Linked DNA regions of Homo sapiens: region 1 is linked to region 2. Evidence: fine-mapped expression QTL. A gene starts in region 2. The other region holds a variant in brackets. All regions are shown on one strand. Distances are from middle to middle.

Evidence for each region. PIP is the estimated chance that this variant, and not a neighbour inherited with it, causes the effect.
Region 1: its variant is fine-mapped to the expression of UBE3B in whole blood (INTERVAL, PIP above 0.99).

Annotation. Positions count from the first base shown.
Region 1 is chr12:109,580,941-109,595,418 of GRCh38, forward strand. MVK (mevalonate kinase) reads left to right here. Exons shown (of 11, transcript NM_000431.4): 5 at 455-610; 6 at 5,082-5,185; 7 at 5,814-5,859; 8 at 9,831-9,921; 9 at 10,301-10,417; 10 at 14,088-14,241. Among named protein-coding and RNA genes, the nearest start is that of MVK, 14 kb to the left of the region's middle. The variant C/T (reference allele first, on the strand shown) is at 8,077.
Region 2 is chr12:109,469,286-109,486,162 of GRCh38, forward strand. It overlaps UBE3B (ubiquitin protein ligase E3B), which reads left to right and starts at 8,349. Exons shown (of 28, transcript NM_130466.4): 1 at 8,349-8,824; 2 at 12,352-12,457; 3 at 14,246-14,427; 4 at 14,576-14,696; 5 at 16,727-16,786. The coding sequence starts at 14,267. KCTD10 (potassium channel tetramerization domain containing 10) reads right to left here and starts at 8,015. Exons shown (of 7, transcript NM_031954.5): 1 at 7,975-8,015; 2 at 230-443. The coding sequence starts at 7,977. RefSeq lists enhancers at 6,928-7,663, 8,172-8,261.

The DNA of each region.
Region 1 (14,478 bases), 110 kb after region 2:
GTCTTTGTGGGCAGCTACGGAAAGTGTCACAGTGGAAGCGACATTTGATAAGGCCTTGAGAGATGGGTAGGGATTTCTCTGTGGGATAAGGAGGTGCACGGCTATTGCAGGCAGAGGGGCCAGCCTGTGCTCAGAGCAGGCCCACAGAAAAGCCTAGCATGTGGGCACAGGAAGGAGGTGGGAGAAAGGGGTTGACAGCTTGCCAGGTGCTTCTGGGAAGGGCTCTGGTTGAATGACCCAGGGATTTAAATGAACTTGATACCTGTTTTCTAGTTGTCTGATTCAGCATGAGTTCCTGATGTTCAATAGGGATACATTTGGGGTCAGGAATTCTCCCCCAGTTGAGAAAACTGGACCAGATGCTTGGAGTCAGGCCTGGGCCTGGCCCCTGGTTCAGTGCTGGCACCCCACTGCCCTGCGGGAGAGTCACGTTTCACACCCTGGTGTGTTTCAGGGCCCTGCCGAGCCTGGATATCGTAGTGTGGTCGGAGCTGCCCCCCGGGGCGGGCTTGGGCTCCAGCGCCGCCTACTCGGTGTGTCTGGCAGCAGCCCTCCTGACTGTGTGCGAGGAGATCCCAAACCCGCTGAAGGACGGGGATTGCGTCAACAGGTAACCATGGTCCTTACCTGGCCAGTGTCCCTCCCGCACGGCAGGACAGGGACGTGGCTTCTCTCACTGAGACCTCACCACCTCCCTGTGAGGTGAGAGGTGTCATAGTGGCCATTTTAACATGAGGAAGCTGAGCCCCGAGAGGTCAAATGGCTGGCCCAGGGCCACACAGCTAGTGCTGGCAGAGTGGGATTTGAACTCAGAGTCTGAGCTTTTCTCTCCTGCTCTCCACCACCTCTGCTCACCCCCATCTTGGCTCTGTTGGTTTCAAGCGCCCATGGTATGGTAGAAAGAGCTGGAGTCCAGATCTAGAGGGCAGCAGGTTAGATGAACCCTCCCACCTCTGCATTGACTCAGGCTAGGACAGTGTTCTCCTCTGTATGGTAATGACAGTGCCCTAGGGGTGATTGTCCAGTTTTACCACATGGTTATGAAAGAAACTAAGAGTTTGCTGAGAAATCCACATTAGGGGGTGTGCCCATTAGACTAGGGCATCTCTCCTCCTACGGGGCCGTCTCCACGGAGGGCGTGTCACCTCTCTGCGTTCCTATTGACCACGTGAGTCAGTGAGGCCTGTCCAGACAGGCTTGACCACAGACCATTTCTATCATTAGGAGAATGTTCCTTGAGAAACCACCCAGTGCGCAGAGGTTACGCAGTTTGTCCCAGGACCAGGAGTTGTGGATGAGGCCCCCAAATGCAGAGCTCTGTCCTCTTCCTGGGCTTGTTTTTGTTTTGTTTTGTTTTGTTTTCTGAGCTTGGTTTTTTTGTTTGTTTGTTTGTTTGTTTGTTTGTTTGTTTTTTGAGATGGAGTCTCGCTCTGTCACCCAGGCTGGAGTGCAGTGGTGTGATCTTGGCTCACTGCAACCTCTGCCTCCAGGTTCAAGTGATTTTCCACGGGCCAAAGGACTGGCCCTGTCTTTCAAAAGGTGGAGGGTGACTGTGTGTGTGCACTTGCATGTGTGTGTGTTCTTATGCTGCTTCTAACCATTTCTCCCACCTTCCCCTGAAGGCCAGTCATTCCTTCTCAGAACCCTTAGGGAGAGTAGACCTCCCACCCCACCCCACCCCACCACACCCCACCCATCATGTGTTTCTGAGTCGGAAAGGACTGGAGCCCAGTCTCCTTTGAAGACTCAAATCTGAGCCCCCTAAAAAACAAACTGTGTAGAGCAGGAGGAAGACTCACATTTGTTGAGAGGGCCAGGCCCTGGGCTAGGTCAGCTGCCTGAGTTACCTTCCCCCGCCTCCATCACTCACTTCATCCCAGGCACGCTGCCACCTGTTGGTCCCTGGGAAGGGCCAGCCAGCTCTGGTGTGGTTCCAGTGCTGCACAAGTGGTGTGTCTGGAATGCACCCCACACACACACCTTGCCCAGCTGGCTCCCCTTGTCCTTCAGGCACCACCACCCCGCCCCAGCCCCCAGCAATTCAGCCCATCGTACTCTTACAGAAACACCTGGTTTGTTTTTGTTTTTGTTTTTTTAACTATATTATCATTTATTAAATGTAATTAGGTAGCTCTGGATCCTTGGTCTGTTTTTTTTTTCTTTTATTATTATTATACTTTAAGTTTTAGGGTACATGTGCACAATGTGCAGGTTAGTTACATATGTATACATGTGCCATGCTGGTGTGCTGCACCCATTAGCTCATCATTTAGCATTAGGTATATCTCCTAATGCTATCCCTCCCCTCTCCCCCCATCCCACCACAGTCCCCAGAGTGTGATGTTCCCCTTCCTGTGTCCATGTGTTCTCATTGTTCAATTCCCACCTATGAGTGAGAATATGCGGTGTTTGGTTTTTTGTTCTTGCGATAGTTTACTGAGAATGATGATTTCCAATTTCATCCATGTCCCTACAAAGGACATGAACTCATCATTTTTTATGGCTGCATAGTGTTCCATGGTGTATATGTGCCACATTTTCTTAATCCAGTCTATCATTGTTGGACATTTGGGTGGGTTCCAAGTCTTTGCTATTGTGAATAGTGCTGCAATAAACACACGTGTGCATGTGTCTTTATAGCAGCATGATTTATAGTCCTTTGGGTATATACCCAGTAATGGGATGGCTGGGTCAAATGGTATTTCTAGTTCTACATCCCTGAGGAATCGCCACACTGACTTCCACAATGGTTGAACTAGTTTACAGTCCCACCAACAGTGTAAAAGTGTTCCTATTTCTCCACATCCTCTCCAGCACCTGTTGAGAAACACCTGCTTTGAAGTCACATATTGCAGTGTCATGGATTTGTTTGTATTTGAATACTGATCGCTTTCTGACCTTCACTTTCTCCATTAGACTCTAAGCTCCAAGAAGTCAGGGACCTTGTCTGTTTTGCTCCCTACTAGGAGCTTAGTCACAGGCACATAGCAGTTGCTCAATAAATGCTGAATGAATAAGTGAGTGTATCTTGTTGGCACCATTAAGTTAGTAGCTAAGAGCTTGGGCTCCAAGTCAGCAGATGTGGTCCTGACCCAGCAGTGAGTAGCACTGTGATCTCCAGGATGCTGTTTGACCCATCCAAGCCTCAGTTTCCGTTTCTGTAAGAAACAGGATAATTATTATACCTTCCCTGTAGGGCACAATTGGGAGGATTATGAACCATTTCTCAATGGTCCATTTGAGAAAGCATTTAGCACAATGTTTGGCACATGCTAATCAATAGTATGTTAACTGATGTTAACTCATTATTAATCATAGTCTCACAGCTACCATGTGAGTTGCCAAGTCCGTAAAAATCCTTATTTGGCAGATGAAGAAAGAGACTCAGAGCAGGTAATTGACTTGCTCAGGGCTCACAGCAAGTAAGTGATTGAACCAGGCCCCCAGGCGCTGTGACCCCAGACGGCCTATTTTGAGGGGAGCACATCCTATCTCCTGGGCATTACACAAAGCACTTGTGTATTTTTTCCATCTCAATATCCTCAGTGAGATAGACACTATTATCCCTGTTTTATGGATGAGAAAACAGGGTTTAAGGTGAAGCAGTTGCTCACAGATGCCCAGTGAGTCAGTGATAGGATGGGCTCCAAAAAGGGCTCACTGGCTGGGCACGGTGGCTCACGCCTGTAATCCCAGCACTTTGGGAGGCTGAGGTAGGCAGATCGCTTCAGGTCAGGAGTTCGAGATCAGCCTGGCCAACACAGCAAAAACCCATCTCTACTAAAAATACAAACATTAGCCAGGCGTGGTGGCAGGCGCCTGTAATCCCAGCTACTCGGGAGGCTGAGGTAGGAGAATCGCTTGAACCCAGGAGGCAGAGGTTGCAGTGAGCTGAGATCGTGCCACAGCACTCCAGCCTGGGGGACAAGAGCGAAACTCCATCTCAAAAAAACAAAACTAGGCTGACTGCTTACTCCATAACTCTGCCACTGAGCCACATCATTCTCAGAGGTCAGAAAACCACCTTTAGCTTCTGCTGTTTCATGAGGAAGGGAATCTGCAGAAAGGAAACAAAAGCTGAGAGAAAAGAGTGGGGAAGTGGGGTTGATCATTTTGTCTTGTTCCATACTCATGTGTTTTGGGTCTGTTCATTTAAACTGTTTGTGAGCCCACACCTGGTCCATGGAAGGCAGTGAGGCCACGTGCTTGGGAGAGATCCAGACATGGTTGGGACGAGCCTGGCCCCTCCAGGGGTCTCTGGGGCTCCTGGGATTTGAATTCATAATGATCGTGCTTTGGATCTACTTGCAGGGCCCTGGGAAAGAGTCACACCTCTGCCCGTTCTTCTTAAAGGCAGGCTTGGTTCAGGTGTGGACGCTTATGCAGAGGTCTGTTATAGTGGCAGTTGCCACCTGCTGCTTGTGGACACCTTGCCATCATTAGACACACATGCAGCTAGCCTCTGAGGAGGGTGGGGGTTCCAATTCTCCAGGGAAGGATAATGAGGCTCAGAGAGGTTAGATAACAGGCCCAGAGTCACTCAGCTAGTAAGAGGCAATGCAGGGGCCAGGTGCGGTGGCTCATGCCTGTAATCCCAGCACTTTGGGAGGCCAAAGCGGGCGTTCGAGACCAGCCTGTCCAATATGGTGAAACCCCGTCTCTACTAAAAAATACAAAAATTAGCTGGGCGTGCTGGTGTGCACCTGTTGTCCCAGCTGCTCGGGAGGCTGAGGCAGGAGAATTGCTTGAACCCGGGAGAAAGTGAGCTGAGATTGCACCACTGCACTCCAGCCTGGGTGACAGAGTGAGACTCCGTCTCAAAAAAAAAGAAAAAAAAAGAGGCAAAGTAGGACCACGGGAGTCCAAAGCCCAGGCTGTTTTGACTGCGCCAGGTGGGCTTCAGAGGGAAGGGCGCACACTTGGCACGCTCCGTAGCTGGAGAGGTTCAGAGTGGACTTGTTCTTTCTGAGCTCAAGGGCCCAAGCTCCTATGCCCCTTGGCCTGCCCAGCACAGCCCCAGGTGACCCCTCCCCAGCCCCACTCCTCACTGCCACAGTAAAGATGAACATCTGTGTCTTCAGGTGGACCAAGGAGGATTTGGAGCTAATTAACAAGTGGGCCTTCCAAGGGGAGAGAATGATTCACGGGAACCCCTCCGGAGTGGACAATGCTGTCAGCACCTGGGGTAGGTGTGGCCTCAGGTTTATTTTATTGTTGTTATTTTAAAAATTCTTATTACAATGGTAGGTGCCCAAGAGTCTGTGCTGGTTTGGGAGGAATCGAATCAATGGATTCTGGAAAAAATAGCATTTTCCTATTTTGGGGGGAATGGGGAGAAATCTTGGGGCCCTGTCTCACACCCCCTGAATCAGAATCTCCGGGGGTGGAACTGGGGCCTGGGAAGCTGCAGCTTCCACGAGCTCCCCAAGAGAGTTGTAGGTTCAGGATGCAGAGCCGTTGCCGTGGAGTTTGCACACCATCCAGGTGGCCTCCCCTCTGGCAAGAACTCTTGCTTACAGGGCCCAGATGCTGTGTCCTGGGCCCCACCTTCACCATGTGGCTTGTCGGGGGAAGCTGGACAGTCTGGAGGGAGGGGGACCCAGGAATCCAAGGCCTGGCAAGAGCTTCCTGGTGGGGCTTCGGGGACCTTTTGCCCTCCTGCACCTTTTGTAACTGAAGCTGGGCTGACTCATTACTTAGCCTCTTTCCTGAATGGGGCAAAATGAACCCAACCCAAAGTTCAACCTCTCTCCCAAGTAGCACAGATATGTTAGCTTTTCCCACAGCTCTGACCCACTGGTTTTTCTCTTTAGGAGGAGCCCTCCGATACCATCAAGGGAAGATTTCATCCTTAAAGAGGTAACCTGGGGGTGGAGCAGCACATTCAGCCATGGCTGCATTGATGTGTGCAGGGGGCAGAGCTCTGCACCTTTGGGAAGTACCATAGGAGGCAGGTGTCCCTGGCTCTTCATCCCCCAATGTGGCCCTCACAGTGCACTAGCTGCAAGGAAGCAGGGGTGGTGGGGAAGACCTGCTCTCTCCTTCTCCCCTTCAGCTCTTAAATTGCAGAGATATCAGAAAGGGAAAGTCATGCATGGCTGTGCCCGTAGACTCTCAGCTGCTCATTCATTCATTCCTGTATTTGCTTAGTAAACAAGAATCCATTACTTCCTGTGTTCCCGATGATGCTGCACTGGGGCGTAGGAATGGAGAGATGAAGCTTGGGTACAGTTTCCAAGGACTCTCAGTCTGCTTGTGGGGGTGGGGCCAGACACACACAAAAGCCGCCACAGGACAATGTGAGAGTCACCATGATGGAGGCACACAGGGCAGAGGCAGGATGGAAGCGGGAGGGAGGCTTGGGAGGGGCTTGGAGCAGAAGTGACATTTGGAGACTCTCAGCCTGTTTTATGTTTCTGTGTCCCTCCCGCTGGAATCATTGGAATCACAAACGTGCATGTGCGATTTCAGCATTCTCTGTTCTGTTTGCGATTTCAGCATCCTCTGTTCTGTTTGCACCCACGGCAGAATTGTTGGGTGCCTGGAATGAAACGCATGGCAGAGGGGAGCCAGGTGCCTTTTTGACTGTTCCCTAAGCCCTTGATCAAGTTGTGGGGTGGTGTTTGTCCCAGGGCACTTTGCCACCTCCATGGGCCTTTTCGCATCAGTAAGGGTCCTGGGGCTCTCTCCTCTTTACTCAGGGCGGTCTTCATGGATGAGTGGCAGGTCCTGGCCTGCAGCCCCCACCAGCTGGGCCACTCCATTAGTGGCTCAGTAACCTGGCCTGCCACAGCGCCACACCTGGGCCCCCGGCTAGTTCTCTGGGATCTTTCTGTCCCAGCTCAGTCATGCCTCCCTTTCCAAGGCTGTACGTCAGAGTTGTCAGCATTGGCACTATTGAGATTTGGGGCTGGGTTATTCTTTGTGGTGGGGCTGCCCTGTGCATTGTAGCCATCCCCAGCCCCTACCCACTAGATGCCAGTAGCACCCTCAGCGTGGCAATCAAAAACATCTCCAGACATTGCTTAGTGTCCCTTGGGAGGCAGAATCACCCTTGCCGCCGACCTTTGCACTCCGCAGAAGCCAGTAGGAGCGTGGAACAGCTTCCTCGGGTTGCTCCAGCAGTCGTCAGGAGAGCCTCGGGTGCCGAGGTGAAGCTGGTCTGCCACCGCCCCGGATCCATGTGGAACCAGAGCTGGATCATGTGGGGGAGTCTCAAATGCCCGGGCCCCGGCCTGTCTTCAGGAGCCCACGGTCTGATGGGGAAGGCGGTCACTGGAATCGTCAGAGAGAAGACACCTGAAGGGTTGTGAAGCTGCTGTGGGTGACAGTGACAGGCGTCTTAGATCTGGCTGCGAGCCTGGGGAATCATTCATGGAAGTGGTGGCATTTCATTCCTTCAGTGTCTCCTGAGAGCCACTTGTGGCCTAAGCACTGGACTAGGCCCTGGAGCTAGAAAACTGATGAAGACGTGGGCTGGGCACCGAGTGTACGGTCTACTGGGGGCATCAGGAGATGAATGAGGAGGTTTCCAAGGGGGGCGGGCAGGGGAACGGCCAGGGGAATGGCCAGGCGTTGCTGGTGTGCTGGGCGGAGGCGCTGGGTCCACAGGCCTAGGTTTGAGTCCAGCTCTCCCACTTGCCAGCTGGTGCCCTCAGGTGAGTCACTTCTCCCAGACCTCCAGCTCCTTGTTTACTTAGGGGGATCTTGAACATACAATCAGAAGCGGTGGCTCTGAAGTGCTTACCTGTTTGCTGGCCGAGTTCATTCATCCTTTCCACAAGTATCATTAAGCACCTACTGCGTGCTGAGTACTGGGGCCTCCGCAGGGAACAAAACAAAGCCCCGCCTCCGTGGAACTCATACTTTGTTGGGAGAGGAGAAAAAATCAGTTGTCTGTGAGAGCATATCAGGCAGTCTTAAGCACCTTTAGGAAACAAGGCAGGGTCAGAGGCTACAAAGAGAAGGAGGGGTCCGATTGGATGGGGGTTCGGGGGCTGCTGGTGAAGGAACATTGAGCAGAAACCTGAATAAGTCACGCCGCTATGGGGCGGGGCTGGTCCCTGGCAGAGGAAG[C/T]GCGGTGCAAAGGTCCTGAGACGAGCACGCTGCCTGCCGTGTGACACAGTAGCTGGGAGGTCAGAGTGGCTGAGTGGAGTGAGCAGCCTGGGGAGCGAGGAGAGAAGAAGAGGCTGGGGCAGTGGCCAAGCCCGGATCACAGGAGCGCTTACCAGGCTTACCCCCTGCGTGGTGGCCGCTGGATGGGTATGAGCCCTGGATCTGGTGGGGCTGGTGACAGGCCTGTCTGCAGAGGACTTGTCTAAGAAAGATGAAGATGCAACACCCAAACTCCTCCCGCCTGGCTAGATGGGAGCATGGAGCAAACCAACCTTTGCTGCCTGCTGTGGGGTGCCACGGGAGCAGATGGCGGCTTCACAGAGAAGCTGGGGGCCAGACTCCACGTTAATCCCATGGATGGCTTAAGGAGCTTCCCCCCACCAACCATGCGTGGTGCCTCTCTGTAAAGAAAAAATGCATTGTTTGTGAAGTGGATCAAGATGCGGCCTCCCAGAACGCTGCCCTTTTGAGGAATGGCTTGTCTTAGAAGGGAAGAGAAAAGCCAAATAGAATGTTCATCTTTTGTAAAGTTAAAAAAAAAAAAAAGCCAGCCTCCAAGGCTGAGAATCGATATTAATTTCATGGGCTTATGGGCAGTGAGATAAAGCAGGTTTCTGGCAGCCCTTTCCAGCCCTATTGGATTTTACAATCTTGAACTGTGAAGACAGCGAATAAAGGTATCAAGGGCTCTGCCCGTCTCCAGCTGTCTCGGGCCAGAGCTCATCCAAATCCCCCACCTTCCATCCCAGCCTGCAGCCCTCTGAAAGGCAGGTTGGATGGCAAGAAATGTCAGCTTGAGCCCTCGAAGACGGCTCACTACAAGGACAGTTGGGATTGTGGCTTTAGGAGGGATTTATGCAGCTCCTCTGGGGCAGGTGAGGACCACGGGGTCATGCTAGAGAGTCAGCTCAACGTGGCTGCCTGGGACACGTCTATGTGCCAGAGGGCAGCCAAGGGGATGACTGACTCTACATCTGGTTTTAGACCAGGGCTGCTCGTCCGGGCACCATTGAGGTAGGGCAAGAATGGGCTCAGCGTGCTGGGGACCATCCTCCTCTGCAACCCTGCCCTCCCTGCATTTACGAGCCCGTGCGTGGCACTGCCCGCACCAGCTAGCCTGGGCATCTTCCCTCTGTGTGATCCATTTCAGGGCCTGTTGCTTGGTCTTTCTAAAACTCCAGCTTCGTGGGGGTGACCCACACAAGTGAACCTTCGCCCCCTCCTTGTACTCTGCTATAGCCACTTTGAATTTCTCACTGGATGACTGTGCCGGGTTCCGCCACCTCCAGGCTCACACAGGCTGCTCCAACTGCCAGAAATCCTCACCCTTCTAGCTTTGCTTGGTGGCTTCTTACCCTTCCTCAGTTCTCAGTGTCCACGTCATGCCAGAAAAACCTTCTCGGCCCTTCTCCCCTATCCCCTCTCTGGCCCCGGCCCCAAGGCCACGCTGTGCCTAGCATGTTGTAGGTCCCAGTTGAAGTTGAATGAATAAATGAGTGAAAAGCCAAGGGAGAATGGCCACCCAACCAGTGCCTGGGATGGAGGCGCAGCTGTGGCCAGCAGCAGAAGCCCCATGCTCCCCCAATCCAGTGTCACCTCTTGTGCCTCCCTTCTTCCTCCGTATCAGGGTGGGCGGCTTCCCGGACTGCTCCCAGTCCTGTCCCAGCTCCTCCATCTTGAGTTCAGTGTGGACCTGCCTCCTCTTCACCCTGCAGGTCGCCAGCTCTCCAGATCCTGCTGACCAACACCAAAGTCCCTCGCAATACCAGGGCCCTTGTGGCTGGCGTCAGAAACAGGCTGCTCAAGGTGACTCTTGTTCCCTTCTTGGGCAGGTTTCAGGAAGGCCAGGACACAATTACATCTGGATTTTCGAGGTCTCCCTCTGGCTGATGGGTTATAGGGGGTGTGGTGGGTGGTGGGGGCCCTTAGGGAGGTGGTTTTGGCAGAAAAGAAGGTACCGTCCGTGCCCGTAGCCTGGCCAGGAAAATGACAGTGGTCGGGCTCGTTAGACACACTGACTTTGCAGCTGGGAAGGCAAAAAAACAGGCTCAGAAGAGAGGTGGTTTCCCCAGAGGATGGGCACGGGCTGTGTGAACACCTCCTCCCTCCACCCCACTGCTGGGGCAGCTGTCCTGCATCTGCCTGCCCCCAGGCCTCACCAGCCGTTCCTTCTTTTTTTCTCCAGTTCCCAGAGATCGTGGCCCCCCTCCTGACCTCAATAGATGCCATCTCCCTGGAGTGTGAGCGCGTGCTGGGAGAGATGGGGGAAGCCCCAGCCCCGGAGCAGTACCTCGTGCTGGAAGTAAGAGCCTGTCTGCAGGAACCGGGGTTACTGAGTCCACACCACTGTCCAAGGCAGTGGCTCTGCAATCTGGCTGTGCTCAGAATCCCCCGGAAGCTAGCACATAGAGGTCAGGACCTGCCTCTGGCCTATGCTCTCAGCTGGGCCCAGGTCTGTGCGTGCCATATAAGCGTATCTTATTTTCAGGCCTCTTCCTGGGTGATTCCGAGTAATTGGGAGAGTGCAAGGGAGGCCAGGGCCTGGCTCGTGCTAAGTGCAATGGAAACAGGTTTGGGTCACTTCTAAGGAGCTCTGGCCCACGTAGGTAGATGGGGATGTGGCTGATGCAGAGTGCTCTGTCGGTGCAGGGGTGACTTCTTGGTCACTCTCCTGCTATTGCTAACTTCATGGGTGCATTCAACAACTACTTGTCAACTGCCTGCTTTGGGTCAGACAGATCCTAACATTGTTTTTTCATCATTGCAACCCCATCCACTGCCATTTGCATAATTCTAGTGTAGAGGTTGTGACCTGGTACTTTGGGTGTGATCAGGCCTGTGTGTGAATCCCAGCTCCACTTCTGCTGGACGTGTGGCCTCGCTAGAGTGTCTTAAGAATGCTCAGATTAGACGGGCGCAGTGGCTCACCTGTAGTATTAGCACTTTGGGAGGCCAAGGCAGGTGGATTGCTTGAGTCCAGGAGTTCGAGACCAGGCTGGGCAATGTGGTGAAACTCTGTCTCTACAAAAAATACAAAAGTTAGCCAGACATGACGGTACATATCGGTAGTCCCAGCTACTCGAGAGGCTGAGGCAGGAGGATCACTTGAGCCCAGGAGGTCAAGTTTGTAGCCTGGGCGACAGAATGAGACCTTGTCTCACACACACACAAAAAATGCTTGGAGTCTCATGGGTGACACGCAAGCACAATGTCTGGTGTGCTATGAGCTTAGGGAACCAAAGAGCCCAGGCTCCCCCTGGACACAGTCCACCTGGCCTGGTGAATATGGGCTGTTAGCCATCTGGCTGCCCTTGCAGAATGAGAGGATCGGGTGGCCCCTAGCTGCCGTGGCTGTGCAGCAGCCGTCAGTGAAGGGACAGGAGAGGGGCGTGCGGTCTCCATGTCACCACAGTCCCTCCCCGCGCCCCGCACTCTGTAGTCATTGCCTGGTGTCTCCCGGTCCCCCGTGGGCATTCGAGTCTGTAGCCCCTGTGCTGAGTGGAAGCTGCCACTAAAGCAAGCCTTTTACAAATGATTCTTTTCACTTGATCCTCACACCCACCTCCCTGTGAAGTAGGTGTCTTATCCCTATTTTACAGATGTAAAAACTGAGGCCTGAAGAGAGACTTCCCCCAAGGTTATCCAGCTAGTGAGTGGCCGAGCCAGGGGTCCAGCCGACGGACTGGTCTGTCCCTTTATTCAACAGATCTGTCATGAGCACCTACTATGTGCCAGGGCAGCGCCTCCATCGAATTCCTGTGTTTCGGCCCTCATTCCCTCAGTCTTTGTCTTCCTAGCTCTCAATTCCTTCCACATAGAAAGGAGGGAACACAGTCCCCCCGAGTAGGAAATCAATAATGATAGAATACTGCCTAAAATACACCCTGTCGAGTCCCTGGAGAATGCCACAGAACAGCACGTTGATTATACATTGTGTGTATTTTTGGCTGTGGCAGCCGCTGAAATGTGCAGCTCAGCTCCTGGACAGCTTTGCACTCAAACCAGCGAACTGTTCTCCTGTGTCACAACCTGTCATCTGATCCTTGACAGATTTTGGATCAGAATGTGACAGGTGTCTGGAACCTGCCTCGGCAACGTGACACCTGGTGCTCAGGCGCAGAGAGCGGCCCCCAGAAGTCTTCTCTCACATCCAGCCCATCAGGCTGGTGAGAGGCACCCGGGGCTGCCACCAGGCCATCATGCCTGTCTGCTCATTTGTCAAAAATGGTGAGCTTGGCGCAGAGCGAGGTATGAGGCAGGCTGTTGGGGAGGGCCACTCCAACCCTGCCTGACCGGCCATCCCCATGCGGGAGAGCTAGGTGGGCCTCCGCAGAGATGCCTCAGTGATTGGCAACTCCTGGTATACAGGCAATCCAGGTGCCCCGGAACAGAGCTTCACACGGAAGTGAGGAATGCCAGGGGGTGCTCTCAGAGGCAGGGTAGACAGGAGCTTCATGTCAGGCAGACCCGCCTTCCAGTGCCAGCTTGGTACCTACTAGCTCAGTGATCGTGGGCAAGTCACTTCTTCTCTGAGCCTCTGTTTCCCCTTTTGTAAAGTGGGGATGATGCTAACGTACCCATAAAAATACTAACAGCACATATCTCGTGCCAGGCATTGAACAGAAAACTCACCTTGTTTCGTCTCAGGGCAAAGAAGCAGATTTTTTTTTTTTTTTTTTTTTTGAGACAGAGTCATCTTGCTCTGTCGCCCAGGCTGGAGTGCAGTGGCACAATCTTGGCTCATTGCATCCTCCCAGGTTCAAATGATCCTCGTGCCGCAGCCTCCTGAGTAGCTGGGATTACAGGCACACGCCAACATACGTGGCTGATTTTTGTATATTTAGTAGAGATGGGGTTTCGCCATGTTGGCCAGGCTGGTCTCAAACTCCTGACCTCAAGTGATCCACCCGCCTCGACCTCCCAAAGTGCTGGGATTAAAGACGTGAGCCACCACACCCTGCTGAGGCAGATACTCTTATGACCCCGGTTTACAAGCAGGAGACAGACCCAGTGCAGAAGACCTTGCTCAAGGACACACGACCAAAAAGGGGCAGAGCAGAGACTCGAACACAGGCCTACTTGACTCCAAATCCCATGGTTTTTACTTCCTGATGGCTGGGACCGTGGCTGGGCACCCATCCTTAGAGCCCCAGCACGTTGTGGGTGTTTGGTAAATGAAATCTAACTACTGGGTGCCTGGGCAGTGGAAGCTGTGAAGTTTTATTTTTTCATCCACATGCATCTTGTTGGATCCTTAAAGAGCAGGAAGTTTATCCTGCATAACTGAAGAAACCTAGACAAACAGCTGTTTCCCTGCTTATGGCCTTGCTGGAGTTACACCTAGTTCTTATTCTGAAACCAGTCCCCAAGGCAGCTGTAGGGAGGCATGTTATTTGAAACTTTTTCTCTTGCAAATGGCAGAAATCCATTTCAACCAGACTTTTGTAGAAAGGGAATGTATTGGCTCTCAACTGAGAAGACCAGAGGTAAATGGCTTCAGGTATAGCTCAATCCAGGGGCTGAAACAATGTGTCGGGAATCTGTCCATCTGCCACGTAATATCTGATCATGTGGCAAGATAGGTCATCTTGGCGACTTGTGTCTGAAGTTAATTATTTTAGCAGCTCTAGTGGGAAGGGGCAGAGGAAACCCTGGGAGGGCTGTGATTGGCCCAGCTTGGACCACATGCCCATCCCTGATCAGTCACCAGTGCCAGAGGCTTCTGTGACCAGCCCTAGGATATGTGCTCACTGCTGTGGTGAAGGTATGCTCAGCTCTACCCAAGCTCCGTGAGAAATGCTGCAGGGCAGAAGGATTCTTTTACAAGTGGAGAGGGCCAGGGTGCCAGGTAGGCAAAGCCGTTGGCTGTCTCCAGCCAACAACTGTCAGATGGACGAGGCAGGCTCAGGGGTGGGCATAGGACCTTGGCCTCAGGCAGGCCAAGTGGGAACAGATGGAACCTTCTCCCCTAGGAGCTCATTGACATGAACCAGCACCATCTGAATGCCCTCGGCGTGGGCCACGCCTCTCTGGACCAGCTCTGCCAGGTGACCAGGGCCCGCGGACTTCACAGCAAGCTGACTGGCGCAGGCGGTGGTGGCTGTGGCATCACACTCCTCAAGCCAGGTATCCCGGGGGTAGGTGGGCCAGGCTGCCAGCCTGGGCTCCTAAGAGGGGTCCACCTGGAGAATTCCCTTGAAAGGAAAAAGAGACCTGGAAACAGGTCTCAGCTCCGCTGTGTGGCCTTGGGCAAGTTAGTTAACCTCTGGTCTTTGCTTCCTCATTGGTAAAATAAGGATGAGAGTATCTAGCTTGCAAGATCGTTGCCCAGATTCAAGCAGGAAAGTGCACCTAGAGAGCCTG
Region 2 (16,877 bases):
CTCTGAAGTCACAGAAGCATGGCAGAGATAAGCAAGCTAAGCCCTGGGTGAGGAAGTGACTTTCTCAAAGTAACATAGCAAATCAACGACCAAGTCAAGATGGTGGGAGTCCCCAACAAGCTGCCTCCTACACATCTTCAGGTCTCGACTTAAATGTCACTTCTTCAGGGAAGCCCTCCTTGACCACATAACGCATGGCCAGAGGCAGGCACATGGTGGGTGAGCTTACCTTCACTGTCGGTGAGCACTTCCATGCGCCCGCTGAACATGGCCTTCAGCATGGTGTCCTGCTTGGTCAGCGTCTGCATGGTGGTATAGTAGAGGGCTCCACCCACATTCAGCTTCACGTATTTGGAGCTGGGGCTCGTGCCCTTGAAGGAAGTGGTGCGGGTAGCAGCCGCTGGCACCGCTGAGCTCACCACACTTTCTCCTGACATCTCTTCCTGCCAGTGGAGAGGATACAGGGTCATGACATCAGGCCTGGTTGACTGCTTTCAGCCTGTGGATTCAATCTGGCCTCCAGATGTGTTTTGCTTGGGCCACGCATACACAGCATTTAAAAGTTTGCTTCCAATGTGGACAACTAAGGAGAGCTCACAGAAAAATCTGGACTTCTGGCTTCTCCTAAAATCAGAGGCCAACTGGGCTAGCAGGGGAACAACTGGTCAGAGCTGGGGTATTGGATGACCCCTAGAGAGGGCCATGCATCCCCTAGTTTGTCCCAAAACCCACCCAAAAAGCCTCATACACTGACCCTGCCTGTCGACCCTGCAGGCACAAGGGTGCCCCTAACTCTTGTGTTATAAGCACTTCCTTTCTGCCTAGCACCTGTATACATGAACACCCTGGCTGCACCCTAAAACAGCCTAAAGCACTGCCCAGGTCTCTTTACATTTCCTTATTGCCATGTACCACTCAATAGCTAGCTAAGTGTCATTTTTCAGCTGCATCACAGATGAAATAAGCTTTATGAAGTTGAATGGGATTCCAGCTGGCACTCCTATCACTTCCTGTAGGGAGAAGGTGTTTCTGAGGACTAAACAACAGACATGGAAACTTTTGGAACCAAGTTATTGCAAAATTAGACCTCCTAGACTAGTGCTGCCCAAAAGAGCAAGATCCCACTACCATCTCCCTGATAGCATGGCTGACTCTCTGTACATCTCAAAGAAATGGATACAGTGGCTGATTTACGCAGGCCTGGAAAGTGAGATTGGTATCCGGCACATGTGTACTCAGAGCAAACATGTCTGAAATGAACAGGTAAAACTGTAGAGGTGGAGATGTGCAAGGGTGGGCAGAATCTTTGCTGAATCTGGGGTAGCCCCCACGGCTGGCCCTACCATTCCCATTGAACATCAACAGTTTTTCACAGCACATCACCCTCAGACAAGGCCACTCTGTGCCCTTGCGACAAGACAAAAACAGGACCATTCAGTCATCATGTCCGGACACAGACAAAAACATAAACATTATCCAAAATACAAAAATGACCAAAGATCCCCTATCCTGGCTAATAGGAGTTATAGCTGCTGCTTTACCAATGAGAGGTTTAGCCTCCTTCCATTCTTCCTGCTTTCAAGTCAGGAATCACTGAGACCCAATCACAGAATTAGCCCTGCTTCCCAGCAGCATCCAACACAGAGCAAAGCCCCACTTCTCTGAACTGTCTCTCAAATCACCCAACACAAGCCCACAGCCCTTCTCTGAGATGTCCCACAGTTCTTCCCCACCCCAATGCAACAAGGAAATAAACCCAACTTTGCTTGACTACAGGTATGCTCCTCGTGCTTTTTGGCTGCAGGGCACTGACAGCACATAACTTGTTTGAACTATTCCCTGAAACTGAAAAAGAATTGTCTAGCTTTTCCAGATTTTCTATAATGAATGGGTACTACAACTATAACTGGTAAAACACAAACGTTATTTTTGTAAATGGGACTGGGAGTAAAGGGAGGCAGCTTGCAACAGCAGAAGCAACGCGACAGTCATGGACAATATTCAATTCAAGGTTATCCAACTCTTCTGGCCAACTCTCCCCAACTCCATGGCACCCAACAGTGGCCTGGATATCACCTGCCATGTCAGGGCCCTGCAGAGTGAAACAGAGAAAGAACGGCCTCCTGGAAAGAAATGTTTTCTCAAGAAACAGTTCCTTTTTCATCAAGAAAAGTCACAAGAAAATATGTTTTCAAAAGCTCAGGCTTAGCTCACCTGGGGTCTTTGCTGCCCGATGCCAAACACAAAAGAGGTCCAGAAGAAGCAGTTACCCCTCCTTTCTAGCTGTCCTCTGAAATCAGTCCCCAGAGACCTCACACTAACAGTTATGACCAGCCACCTCCCTCAGAAAAATCCTTTGTCCATGGGATGACAGGAGTAGCTTATGGAAATAAAAGTTTCCAAAAACTGTGAAGACCTCGAAGGGGGGGAGAAAAGGCTTACGGTCATGGGTGAGGGTGTGTGTTGAGGAAATTTGCCCCAAAATGCAAATACTTTTTAAGCACCCCTTTCAGATCTAATTTTATATAATAAATGCTTGTTATGGGAAACGATCTAGCATTTTGGAAGGTGCCTATCATGAAACAGACAAAAAAGTACATAAAGTATACTTCATGTAAAGTCAAAGCACAGTAAATATGTGATATGAAGGATTTTTTTCTAATGGCATACTTGTATAGGACACTTACCATGAATGGAGTGTGTAGGCCTGGAAATTGCTCTGGGTGAGCGAGTGGTGAGTAAATGTGAAGGTCTAGGACATTACTGTACACTACTGTAGCTTTATCAACACTGCACAGGGAGGCCACACTACATTTATTTAAAATATTTTTTCTTTCCATAATAAATTAACCTTTGCTTACTGTAACTTTTTACTTTAAAAACTTTTTAATTTTTTTTTAACTTTTGGACCCTTTTGTAATAACATAGCTTAAAACACATATTGCACAGCTGTACAAAAATATTTTCTTTCTTTATATCCTTATTCTATAAGCTTTTTTCTCTTTTTTTACTTTTTAAACTTTTTTATCCAAAACTACAAAATACACACACATTAGCCTAGCCTACACAGGGTCAGGATTATCAGTATCACTGTCCTCCACATCCTGTCCCACTAGAAGGTCTTCAGGGACAGTAACACGCATGGAACTGTCATCTCCCGTAAGAATCCCTTCTTCTGGGATACCTCCAGAAGCACCTGCCTGAGGCTGTTTTACAGTTTTCACTTAAAAAAAAAAAGGCAGGTAGGAGTATATTCTAAAATAACCATTAATAGTAAATACATTAACCAGTGATATATCTATCAAGTTCATTACTATTATCGACTATTATGTACTGTACATAATTGTGTGTGCTAGACTTATACAACTGGCAGCAAAGTAGTTCTGTTTACACCAGCATCACCACGAACACGTAATATGTTGTGCTACCACTGAAATGACAGCTACACTATCACTGGGCTACAGGAATTTTTCAGTTCCATTATAATCTTAAGGGACTGTTATATACGCAGTCTGTCACTAACCAAACTGTCATTATGTGCGCATGACTGTACCTTTTTTGGCTTTCCAATACCTTTTTAAAGATAATTTGCACATAATGAAGTATACTTTAAGTGTACAGTTTGATGTGTTTTGGTCAATACTTGCACCTGTGTAGCCCCCACTCCAATCAAGCTGTCTTGGAACATTTCCATGCCTCCAGAAAGCCCCTCGGTGTCCCTTGACCACTGCATTTCTACCACATGCCTTTTACAAATTCAAACAATGCTGGAAGACAGCTATAGTTATTTCCATTTTGTGGATTTGGATGCCACAGCCCCATCAGGGTCAGTCACTCTCAAGCTGGAGTTGAGTCAGTGACGGGGCCAGTGAAGGACATGGGCAAGTGGTGGCTGGCCCAGAGACCATCACACCTAGTAGATTGAGAGCTATGATACATAAGCTGAGAAAGGCCAGCCTCACCTCCCTTCTTTAAAAAGTACAAAAAGCCCTGAAAATAGTCGCGAGGTAAAGTGTGGCTAAGGGTTTGGAGTTAGACCTGTGCATAAGGCCCCAGCCCTACCACTTAGTAGCTGTGTCCAGGGCCAAAAGCCTCACCTCCCTCACAGGGCTCCCTAGCTCTGAGTAAACACTCCAAACACTCAAATTATGATGATTTGAGAATGCTCCCGAAGTCTCAAACTATCTTCTCTTTGGAAACTGTTTCCAGCTCTAATGGCAGACGGCATGACTAAGAGATAAAGGCAGGAGCCATCCTGATCTAGAATGAGACTACAGATTAGGCAACAAAAGCTCTAAACCTTTTCAGAGCTCACCCTCTCCAAAGGTCAGTCAACCTAATAGTAGGCAAGGCCCTTGGGGGAAAAGTTTTGGCAGCATTCGTGTCCTTGAGCCCAAGTTACAGTGAACTTAGGACACGAGGCAGTGGACCAGAGACCCCCACCATAGCAAACCTCTCTAGGGAGGACTCTCCCCACTGTTGCTACTGGAATCCTGCTTTTTTTTTTTTTTTTGAGACTGAGTTTTGCTCTTATTGCCCAGGCTACAGTACAACGGCACGATCTCAGCTCACCGCAACGTCTGCCTCCCAGGTTCAAGCAATTCTCCTGCCTCACCCTCCCGAGTAGCTGGGATTACAGGCATGCACCACCACACCTGGCTAATTTTATATTGTTAGTAGAGATGGGGTTTCACCATGTTGGTCAGGCTGGTCTCAAACTCCTGACCTCAGGTGATCCTTCTGCCTCGGCATCCCAAAGTGCTCGGATTACAGGTGTGAGCCACCGCGACTGGCTAATTTTGTATTTTTAGTACAGACGGGATTTCTCCACATTGGTCAGGCTGGTCTCGAACTCCCGACCTCAAGTGATCCATCTGCCTCGGCCTCCCAAAGTGCTGAGATTACAGGCATGAACCACCGTGCCTGGCCAGGATCCTGCTTTTTGACTTGTTTCAAAGGTTTGATTTCATTACCAATGAAGCTGGGGAGGTGAAGCAGGAGACAGCAAAATTGGTTACATGAAACAGAGAGGCAATGAATACTTGAGATACTGGCTACGGATCTGATTCAATCAGAAGTTTATTCCAGTTAAATGGTCAGTCTCTCTTCTCTCCATCTCCCCTGAATATAATGTTGCTGATTCTAAACAGTGGCTCTCCAGTTGGTGACAATCGAAATCAGCTGGGAGCTCAAAACTCCTGACACCTAGGTCCTACCATGAAAATTCTGATGTAATTGGTCCGGGATGTGGACTAGGCAACAGAATTTTTAAAACTCCCTCAGGAGATTTTAAAGCCCACCAAGATTAGAGCCCACTATTCTAAAAAGCACTGTACCCCTTATTTAAGCTACCATTAACTCCACGGTCTTGGCCCAGTGAATTCCTGACCTGACACATTAAAAACAAACCAAAACACCATAAACCAAAGCCAGCCCCCACTTCACAGCTTCAGAGCCACAGGGAGGAAGCAACTGTATGCATGCATGAAAATACAAAAATCAGCTGAAGGGGGAAAATCATCGACTGAAAAGGAGGCTCAGGCAAGTACAGTAGGAAAAAACGCACCAAATCCCTGACCCCACGTTTTCTATATGCTTCTCTGTAGAAGTCTTGTGTGCCTGTGTGTGTGTTAAGGAAAACGGGATAGTCTCGGCAAACCTGGATTGCAATCCAGTTCCACCATTTCCTTCGTGAAATTCAAGCAATTTAACCCAAGTCTCAGTTTTCTAACTTGTAAAATGGAGTGTTAAAGCCATAATCTTCAAAACCCTCAGAGAATGAATGTTAAAGCATTTGGCACCTAGTCCTTTGTGTAGTTTCCTTTGGGCGTCTCAAACATTGGGATCAGTGGTTCCCAACCCTGGCTACTAGAATCACCTGCGTGTGCTTAAAAAACATGATGCCAGGCCAGGCACAGTGGCTCACACCCATTATCCCAGCACTTTGGGAGGCTGAGGCGGGAGGATTGCTTGAGCCCAGGAATTCGAGACCAGCCTGAGCAACATAAGACCTAATCTCCACAAAAAAATTAAAAAAAAAAATTAACCGGTCATGGTGGCACACACCTGTAGTCCCAGCTACTCGGGAGACTGCGGTGGGAGGACTGCTTGAGGCAGGGAAGGTGAGGCTTTAGTGAGCCAAGATAATACCAGTGCACTCTCCAGCCTGGGCGACAGAGCAAGACCCTGTCTCCAAAAAACAAAAACAAACTCACACACACCTGTGCTTGCCTGGGCTACACCCCAGATCAATTAATCAGTATCTCAGAGATGCGGAGGGGTGGCTGATCAGTCACTAGTGTTTAAAAAGCTCTTTGGGGGATTCGGATGTGGGACCAGGGCTTACTGCCACCTAGCTAAGGTATTTAACCAGCTTTATCTAAGAGTTGCCAGGGATGTGAGGCAAAGCATCACCTCAGGGGATTCCTACAGCAAAGAAGTTTAAGAAACACTGTATTGAGGCTTGTATAAAACCTTCCCAAACTGAGGGCATTTCTACAACTCAGAAAAGTCTGCTGTTACATTTCAACTAAACTAAGTCACATAATTGCAGCATTTTACATCCAAAATTTGCTTATAAGACAGCTACCGCCAATTGCAACTTCCATCAAATGACATTCTCTCCCTGTGTTTAATACACAAACTCTTGGTCTATTTCTCTCAATGTTCTAGTGAGAAAGATGTTTATCATCAACCCCACTTTTTTGGGGAGAAAACTAGGAATCACACCTATAAGAGCCCTCTGACTCCCAACTCCTTTGCCCCTTTCATTACACAGTCCAAATCAAGAAATCATTAGTCTAATCCCTTGCAGGGCTTGTTAAAACCGATAGATGGGCTCCACCCCAAGAATGTCTGATTCAGTAGTCTCTGACAGGGCTTGAAATTTCAGCCATTTTGAATAAGTTACCAGGTGTTGCTGCTGGTGGGACCAGAGTTTGAGAACCACTGGTTTATGCTGCCTTCTTCCCATCCGCTGGTCCTTATTTTGCACAAAATGGAGCGGACTAGTCAACGTCAGCTACAGGATAACTGACTTTTCTTCAGCAGCGTCACTGGGACTGATTTTCCCTTAAGACTGCACTTTCCAGGGACGTGACAAACAAGCAAGCAAGTAGAAAGAAGATCTGGGCCAATCTTTGGTCATCTCTACCCAGGGACAATGAGCTACTCAGGGAACAGACCCTTGAGGATCCCAAGCAGACAAACCCCACAGCTGAGAGACAGATCTTGAAACATCCTCCGCTCCTTAGGCGTGGTCACCTCTGGCCTCAATGGAAGTTACAGATAGGTACCCAGGCGCCAGCTGAGGCACTGAACTCCGTGGCGCAGGTATCCTAACCTCAGGCCCCTGGCATCTCTCCCCAGGATTCCAAGCACTGAACGCACATCAGCCTGCTGGGCTCTCTCGATTTCTTTCCCTCACTGGGCCGTGTGTTCAGACGCACCTGGGAGCCCCTTCCCCACTTCCTGGAAACTCAGCGACTCCAGCCACAACCTCCAAAACGCCAAACGCTCCGCCCCAAGGAATCCTACCTCACCTTCTCATAACCTGCCCATTCATTCTCCTTCATAATCCTCCAAATCCTCATTTTCCACCCCCAAATGTCCGTTTTCAATTGATATCTCTTTGTTCTCCTCGCAATCACCAACTCCCATCTCCAACCAGCACTCAGGACTCACTTGGAGACACCCCTTCCTCACGCACACACGTATCTACTCCGCAAGCCCAAATGTGCTTCCCGGATTCCTAACCGCCAGGGAGCCTCCCTACCACCACCCCCGCCCCTAATTCTCCACCCAAAGCCCTTCCCCCACCCCGGGCCTTTCCCCTAACCAATCCCCCAAATGCCTCTCCACTATCGTGACTGCCCCTCATCACACCCCCTCCTCTCGGTCCCTTCTTATACTCTGCTGCTGCCCAGCTCCCTCGGCCGCCCTCAACCCCTAGTCCATGGGCACCGCCCTCCCTACCATGAAAAGTCGGAGGACGCAGGAGTCTCCAAACCCGGACTGAGAGAGGCAGGAAACACCCAGCTCACGCCAGCCGGGGGCGGAGGCGGGGCCGGAGCGATAACTTCCGCTGTCCGCACCCCACTTCCGCCCCGCAGAGGGCAACGTCTTAAGCCGTCCGTTGTGCGCCTAGGGGCCAGTTTTCTTTCCAGCCTCCCCGGCCGGAGTGGGTTCCAGCTTTTCTCGGCTGGGGAGGGCATTTATCCCACCTCCGCTATTTCAGCTGCCAGAGGGGAGGCAAGGTGTGGGGAAGTTTTCCTTCCCGGGCGAAGAAGCTCTGCGGAACTGTCATTTTCCGGAACTGGATGCTTGCTTCCTGGCGGGGTTCTGAAAGCGAACACCGCGGGGCAAGATGGCGGTAGTGCGTCGGCTGCTGCCCCGGGTCTGGCAGAACTCGGGTGTTTTGGGCTGAGACAGTGGCAGCTGCGGCCCCGACCCCAAGTGCGGGGACCTCCGGCGAATAAAGGTCGGCCTGCGGGTAGGCCGGTAGGGCCTGCGGTCCGGCCTGCGGGAGAACTGGGTCGTCAGTCCTCCGAGTGGTGGGGCTGGGGACTTTGAGGGAGTTGGCTCTAGGGCACAGTCCCTGCCTGGCCAGGTCGGAGGAACAAGTGCTGGGATCTGGCGTGTGTGCTCCAGGGGCTCTTTCCGCGGCCCTTTCCACCTCTTTTCACTTTGGGGACGGTAGGCCTTTATAAACGGACTAATGCTGGGTGATTTGTTCCTGTGGTTGTTGATGCCGAGGAAAGACTCTGGGCCCCAGGACTCACCTAAACTGGAGTTCGAATACTGTTCGCTCGCTGTGTGACCTTGGGTGAGTTCCCTCACCTCTCTGAGCCTCAGTTTCCTTCTGTGTAAATGGAGTAATTAGCAGGTTTCACAGAGGGTGTGAATACGTTTTAGTACCGTGCCTGACACCTAGTTCTGAATAAAGAAAAACTTGATCGTAATTTAACTCCAGCTTAGCCCCCACAGGCAATCTTGCACTCTCAACTTCTCTTTGCTTGGCCATTCTGTGAACGGGGGAGCCCTGGATCTTGTTTGTTTTACTTAGTGATAAATAACTGTTTTGGATATACATGGATTCAGATTCAAAAGCATCCACCTTAGATAGGCTGTAGCTTTCAATAAATAGTAGCTGTTAATATGAATAGTCTCTTTAAGTCGTGTTTCCTATTCTTTAAATAAAAATTAGATTATTGAGGCTGGCCACGGTGGCTCACGCCTGTAATCCTAGCACTTTGGGAGGCCGAGGCGGGCGGATCACCTGAGGTCAGAAGTTCAAGACCAGCGTGGCCAACATGGTGAAACCGCATCTCTACTAAAAATACAAAAATTAGCCGGGCGTGGTGGCGGGCGCCTTTAATCCCAGCGACTTGGGAGGCTGAAGCAGGAGAATCACTTGAACCTGGGAGGCGGAGGTTGCAGTGAGCAGAGTTCGCGCCGCTGCACTCCAGCCTGGGCAACAAAGTGAGACTCCGTCTCAAAAAAACAAAGATTATCGAGAACTGATAGAGCTGTTGAAAAGACAAGTTGGTTAAATAATCTGTGCAGTGTCTGATACACCGTCTGCCCAGAACAAGTGGTGGTGGTCATTAAACCTGGTGGCCCAGCTTTTCCTACTGCACAGGGACAATCCTCTTGGCTTAGTCAGCAGTTGGTATTTATGATGCTTCAGCTTTGGAAATATAGAGGTAAGACAAGAGTCTGAATCCTGCCTCTTAGTTATTACAGCCTTGACTCTGCCACATACTAATGGTCTAGACTGGAGTAGATGAGATCATGAATGATCTTCTCATAGGACTCCTCTCCTTATTAGATGAGATCACTTATAAAGGACTTGACACATAATGGGCACTCATTTACTTTTTTAAATGATCTTGGTTATCACCAACCTCTTATTTTCTAATCTTTCTACCTATATGATTCTTGTTTCCCTAACTAGATTGCAAGCTTCTTAAGGACAATACAATAAAGCTCACTTACATGCTACATGCTTTTAGATATCCTATATTAATATTTTCCCATTTAATCCTAATCACAATGTTGTGATGACTAAATTGAGGTACAAGAAGGATAAATGTTGCATTTAATCCTTTCAGCAACCCTAGGACATAGACACTATTATTACCCTCGATTTACACATAAGGAAACTGAGGCCTAGAGAGGATAAGTAACTTGGCCAAATGTCGGATAGAAGGAGTACTAAAAAGAACCAAGGCCCGCTTTCTCTGATGCAAGACTTTTTCTGCTGCGCACAGCCTTTTCTTTGGTTCTCCATGGCATTTAGCAAAATAAGTACTTAATAAACACTTGATTGTGTGTTTTATTAATTGACGAACTATAGTATACACTGTGCAGGTGGAGAAGGTATATAGGAAAGGATGAGAAAAACTGTAAAGTGTAGGCTATTATATGATATGAACAGAAATCAACCAATAACATTGCTGAAGGGATAATAATCTCAAGGAAGGGGATAAGAGTAATTTCTTATTCTGGGAGGGCCCCTGGGAGAAGTGAAAGTTTTAAGATCGTCTTACAGTGCTTAGGTACAGTTTGCATGCAACTTTGTTTTTCTTTTGGGAAGAGGCTCCCTCTTCCCCTTCTAATTCCATGGACCCTCTGCCATTGAGGCACTGTCTGCATGTCATGGAGGGAGCATATCATTGTGCTTGTGGCTTGGGCCCTGCTCTTTTGCAGTCCTGAGGAGCTTGAATCTGTTACTCACTCTAAACAACAGGGCCAGGAGTTCATAGCCCAAGGGACAGGACTGGTGAATCTTAGTGCATTTAAGATAGGAAAAAAGTTAATGGGTGAGAAATGTCAGACTGCCAGCATTATTTCCTACCCAGAGAACCTTAGTAACTGTCCAGGTGGGAGCCTCTGCTGAAGAGTTTTTTTTTTTTTTTAATCCTTGTGTCTATAAAAATAATACACCAGTTAGACTTCCTGACTATACACTCTACAATGTGCACTCAAGTACCTCCATAGGTACCTGATAAGCATCATCACATTTAGTCCTCATTATCAACCTCTAAGCCAATTAATAGATGAAGATGGAAAGACTCAGGGCCCAGTGTGGTGGCTCATACCTGTAATCCTAACATTTTGGGAGGCCAAGGCAGGAGGATCTCTTGAGCCCAGGAGTTTGAGACCACCAACCTGGGCAATATAGCGAGACCCCACCTCTACAAAAAATTTAAAAACTAGCCAGATGTGGTGGTATGTACCTGTGGTCCCAGCTACTTGAGAAGCTGAGGTGGGAGAATCGCTTGAGCCTGGGAGGTAGAAGCTGCAATGAACCATGATTGCACCACTGCACTCCAGCTTGGATGACAGAGCGAGACCCTGCCTTAAAAAAAAAAAAAAGACTTAGACATTCTCCCTATAGTATGTGGCAGAGCTAGGGACTGGCTCCAACTCTGTGTGACTCCCAAAGCCCGTGTGCCCCTCACTGTGCAGTGCTGCTTCACCATGTGCATGCTGTGGAAAATTTAGAAAATACAGACCAATTAAGAAAAATTTCCCGCAATTTCAGTACCTCAAAACAGCCACTGGTAACATGTTGGTATAGTTCATGCTAGTTTTGTATCTGTGTGTGTGTACATTTTTCTTTAGGTAATTGGGGTCTTATTGGTCCACAGGCAGCCCTTTATTCACTTCTAAGGCATAAACGTTTTTCCATTATCATTAAAAATGTCAAACACGCTGAGGCAGGAGAATGGCATGAACCCGGGAGGCGGAGCTTGCAGTGAGCCAATATCGCGCCACTGCACTCCAGCCTGGGCGACAGAGCAAGACTCCGTCTCAAAAAAAAAAAAAAAAATGTCAAACATGGCCGGGCACAGTGGCTCACACCTGTAACCCCAACTGAGATAGGGTATGGTGGCACACACCTGTAATCCCAGCTACTTGGGAGGCTGAAGCAGGAGAATCGCTTGAACCTGGGAGCAGAAGTTATAGTGAGCTGAAATTATGCCGCTGCACTCCAACCTCAGCGACAGAGTGAGACTATCTCAAAAAAAAAAAAAAGGAAAATGTCAAATATAATTTTCAGTAGCTCTTTAACATTCCATGACCTCTAAGTTATTTTGCTTCCCATCACAGCTGTAATTCAACAACAACTTTGGGATTTATTTTCAACATATTCCCTTTAAACTGTGAGGATTGAAGAGATACAGTATAACATTTAGATGAGACATTAAATAAAGAGGACCCAGTGGTGTTTTTAAAAAACCATTGGCATTGTAGTTACTACTTTTACTCAGTGAGGAAGATGTATGATACCACACCTATAAAATTTAACCCTAAGTCTGGATTTTTTTCTTCTGCTTCTGCCAGAAAAAATAACAAGCTTTTCTGAAGTGAGAAGCTGTTCTCAGCCACGAGTCCTGTGCAAGATCACTAATGATTACCTGGCATTTCTGCGACACAGGCAGGTCCTCAGGTGAGATCTCCAGACTTTACTGCTGGGGCAGGAAGCGTAAATGATTCAGAAGATGGCTACCGTTTCTCTCCAAGCCTTTTATAAGTTGGTGCAAAAGTAATTACGACTTAGTGTTTTTTTAAAAAAGTTGAAACCCACAATTACTTTTGTACCAACCTAATACCTTCCCTCCTGTGGTCAAGTGGGCTCTGTTAGTTTGTTTCAAGGATTACTGATGATGTTTGACAGATCACTGTTGAGAAGGGGTCACAGAGGTCCCTTGATATGTTCATGTGGTGGGAGGCTTGCACCAACTTTTTTTTGGTTATAAAAGGGTATTATTTTATTGTCCTTATTAATACTAATAATAGAGCACACTTATTAAATGCCTTTCAATAACACGTAATTAATTTAATACCTCTAGGAGATAATACTATTAAGTCCAATGTTTATTTTAATAATTTTTAAATTTCTTTGTATGGATGTAGGGGGTACAGGTTTCTTATATGCATATATTGTGTAATGGTGGAGTCTGGGCTTTTAGGGCACCCATCACCCGAATGGTGAACATTGTACCAATAAATAATTGTTCAATCCTTACCCCTGTCCCATCTCCCACCTTTTGGAGTCTCCATTATCTTATTCCACTCTGTTTGTCCATGTGGGCCCATTGTTTTGCTCCCACTTCTAAGTGAGGTCATGCAGTATTTGCCTTTCAGTTTCAGAGTTATTTCACTTAGGATAGATGGCCCCTAGTTCTAGCCATCCGACTTTTTACTCTGGATGATATTTTCATGTGGGTGCTACTTCAAGTAAAGTAGCCTGGTAGAGAGATTGTTTTCTGGAAGTCTGGATTTCTGAATAATTCATTTCAGTGTTTTTAACTGGGCTGATTGTGCATTTTGTATAGAATGGCAATGTCATCAAGCATCTAAAGAAATCATCTCAATATGGGAGCCTCCGGGGGTCAGTGCTGTGTGCTTTAGGCTGCTAGCAAAAGCTGTTCCTTTAGGAAAAAACAGTTACTGGTGATTTAGATAAAAACTTAGTATATAATTTAGAGCTGCTCTTCAGAAAAGCACCCGTTAGTGGACAGGACCAGTTCTACAGTAAAGTCTTCACTGGTCCTTGGCAGGATGGTAATTGTAAGGACAATGGAATAAGCTATACATAAAACCAAATATCTTCAATATAATGGACTGTCTTGCATTCTGAAGTGTGTACCTTTTGCTTTGTTAATGTTGAAATGGCCCTTTCTTTTTTGTGTGCTGTCACAAAGTATGCACTGGTAAATATTTGTTTAGTGAATGGATGAATACAATGATGATGACAGCAAATAATCATGTTGGATTTTTCTCTCGAGTCCTTACTTGGCAAAATAAAAGCTGACCTCTCAGTTTTGGTTTCCCAAATACTGTGGACTACTCCAGAAAATTCAAATATCTGGGAATCTTTGACCTATAGGATACCTGGTTTGAATTAGAGCTTTATGGGTGGGACTGATTCATTCTTTGTTCATTCGTAAAGCTGGGCCTGCCCTTATCCTATGCCAGGTGCTGTGCTCTTTCCCTTAAGAAGATGTGATTATTTAATATAGGATGTAGCATCCCTGGTCTTGGTGAGTTGCATGAAAGAGCCTATAGGAGGTAGGGACTTGTGCCGGAGAGCTGTTAGCGCTTTGGAGGGTGTTGACAGGTCCTGAGTATCTCTGCTGCCCAGGTCCCTGCCCACCCTCTGCTCTTGAGCCCCTTTCTGTGTGTGTTTTTCACACAACAATCTACAACACCCACTTGCCCATTTTCCTTGCAGGGTTTGTGCAAGTTTGCAAACATGTTCACCCTGTCTCAGACCTCGAGAGCATGGTTCATCGATAGAGCCCGTCAGGCACGAGAAGAAAGGCTTGTGCAGAAGGAACGGGAGCGGGCAGCTGTTGTGATCCAGGCCCATGTCCGGAGTTTTCTCTGTCGGAGTCGACTGCAGAGAGATATCAGGTAAGGGCTAGGATCTCCCTAGCACATGATTCTCTGGCTCCCAATTAATAGCAGATAAATGAGTTTTTTCTCATAAAGTGCTTGAAAAGCCTTCCAGGTGCTACAAGCTGTTAATTTAAAATGTCTTTTTTTGCACTTTCTTTTCTAGGAGAGAGATTGATGACTTTTTTAAAGCAGATGACCCTGAGTCCACTAAAAGAAGTGCACTTTGTATTTTCAAGATTGCCAGGAAACTGCTGTTCCTATTCAGAATCAAAGAGGATAATGAGGTAAAACGATAATAGCAAACATGTATAATACTTCCATATGTCAGATCTTTTATAATTATTGATATTAACTCAGTTCTTATAGCAGCTTTATGAGGTAATTACTGTCACCCTCACATCCTGTCCCTTTTGTTTTCTTGGGACCTGTTTTGGAGGGATTATGCCCAGTGCTTTTAGGAATCTTTTCACATTGACCATTATAAGCACAAGTTGAACTCAGATGCATGCAAGAGTCAGGAAGTTTAGGTAAATGAGTAAAAAAAACATATATGAGATAAAACATAATACAAAATACAAATCATATTAAACGGTAACTGACAGGCAGCAGTGGTAAGGACATCAAAAGGAGTAGCAGGGTCTGTGGCCTGCCCCATCCACGGGGAGCAGCTACTACACACCTCGGTGGTGGACTCATACTCTGATTTTTTTTTGAGATGAAGTCTCTCTCTGTCGCCAGGCTGGTGTGCAGTGGCGCAGTCTTGGCTCACTGCCAGTCTTCACCTCCCGGGTTCAAGCAGTTCTCCGGCCTCAGCCTCCCTAGTATCTGGAACTATAGGCTCGTGCCACCACGCCCAGCTAATTTTTGTATTTTTAGTAGAGATGGGGTTTCACCATGTTGGCCAGGATAGTCTCGATCTCTTAGCCTTGTGATCTGCCCGCCTCAGCCTCCCAGAGTGCTGGGATTACAGGCGTGAGCCACTGTACCCAGCCTCTGATTTTTTTTTTTTTTTTTTAAAGAGATGCCAAAGATCTGAGTTTTTATGCTCAATGTTCGTTCATTCATTCTTTCATATTCTGAGACAGGGTCTCACTGTCGCCCAGGCTGGAGTGCAGTAGCACTATCACAGCTCACTATAGTCTTGACCTCCCAAGTCTCAAACGATTCTTCTGCCTCAGCCTCCTCAGTAGCTGGGACTGCAGGTGTGTGCCACCATGCACAGCAAGTTTTTGTATTTTTTGTAGAGATAGGGTTTTACCTTATTGCCCAGGCTTGTCTCAAACTCCTGGGCTCAAGTGATCCACCTGCCTCAGCATCCCAAAGTGCTGGGATTACAGGCGTGAGCTACCATCAATGTTCTAATTTGTAAATCTTGGCAATTAATTTGAAATTTTTTAAATATCCTGCAAATCATACAAAAGGTGCCAGTTTGCACCTTAGGGATTAGAATGATCAGCCTGAAAAGTGTAATCCCAGAAAAGCAGCTAGTTATCTGTAATAGTACTAACAATGCCACTGAGGCATGTCTCCAAGTTACCAGCTGTTAGGCTGTTAGGCATTCCTATTGCTAAGCTTCACATTGTGCCAACCCTCTCTAGGCACTGGGCCCTTGGGAGGAAACAGGACGGGCAAGATCTCTACGCTCATGGAGCTCATAGCCCAGCAAGAGAGGGAGGACTATGCAGGCAGTGAACACATGATTACGTAGATGAGGACAGATAAGCTGGAGGAGGTGAACCTCATCTTACAGAGAAGGAAACTGCAGCTCAGGGTGGTAGGGCAGCTTGCCCAATATCACATGGTTTAAGGGCGGATCCAGGATTGGTATAGCCAAAATGGAACCTGTTTTCTAGTTTCCACTTTTCTTCCTTTTGCATTACAGGATAAAAGTGATGATACAGCAGCCTTTGGCTACTGGCTGTGAGGCAAAAGTCAGTATCCATGGTGCTTAAGAAAAGGTAAACTGGAGAGCACAGTTGAGGAGACAGCAGCAGGCCTGCAGGAATCCAAATCCAGTTTGCCAGATTGATACTGTTTTTTGAAAGAAGCCTCAATTTGGGTTTTTATGTGAAGTATACCAGTTTCTAAAACATTTCTATAGGGTTCCTCCAGCTCTTGGGCCACCAGTTGGAGAACCCTTTAGTCTTTATGATCTTCAGTGTCCTCATCTGTAGGAAGGAACTGCATGTGATTATGTGTGAATCACCTGGCATAATACCTGCACGTGCCAGGTACCCGCTGAAGGCTTGTTTTCTTTGTTTTCACTTTTTGATGGATTGTGGGAATGTATAACCCCCAGTGTGTCTCTTTGCAGAGATTTGAGAAGTTGTGTCGCAGCATCCTGAGCAGCATGGATGCTGAGAATGAGCCTAAGGTAAGTGGACGGGAGCCGCAGTGTCTCCCACAAGCTCTTAAGGGCCAACCTACTGGGCTCTGAAAGTTCCTGTTGAATATTAGGACCAATT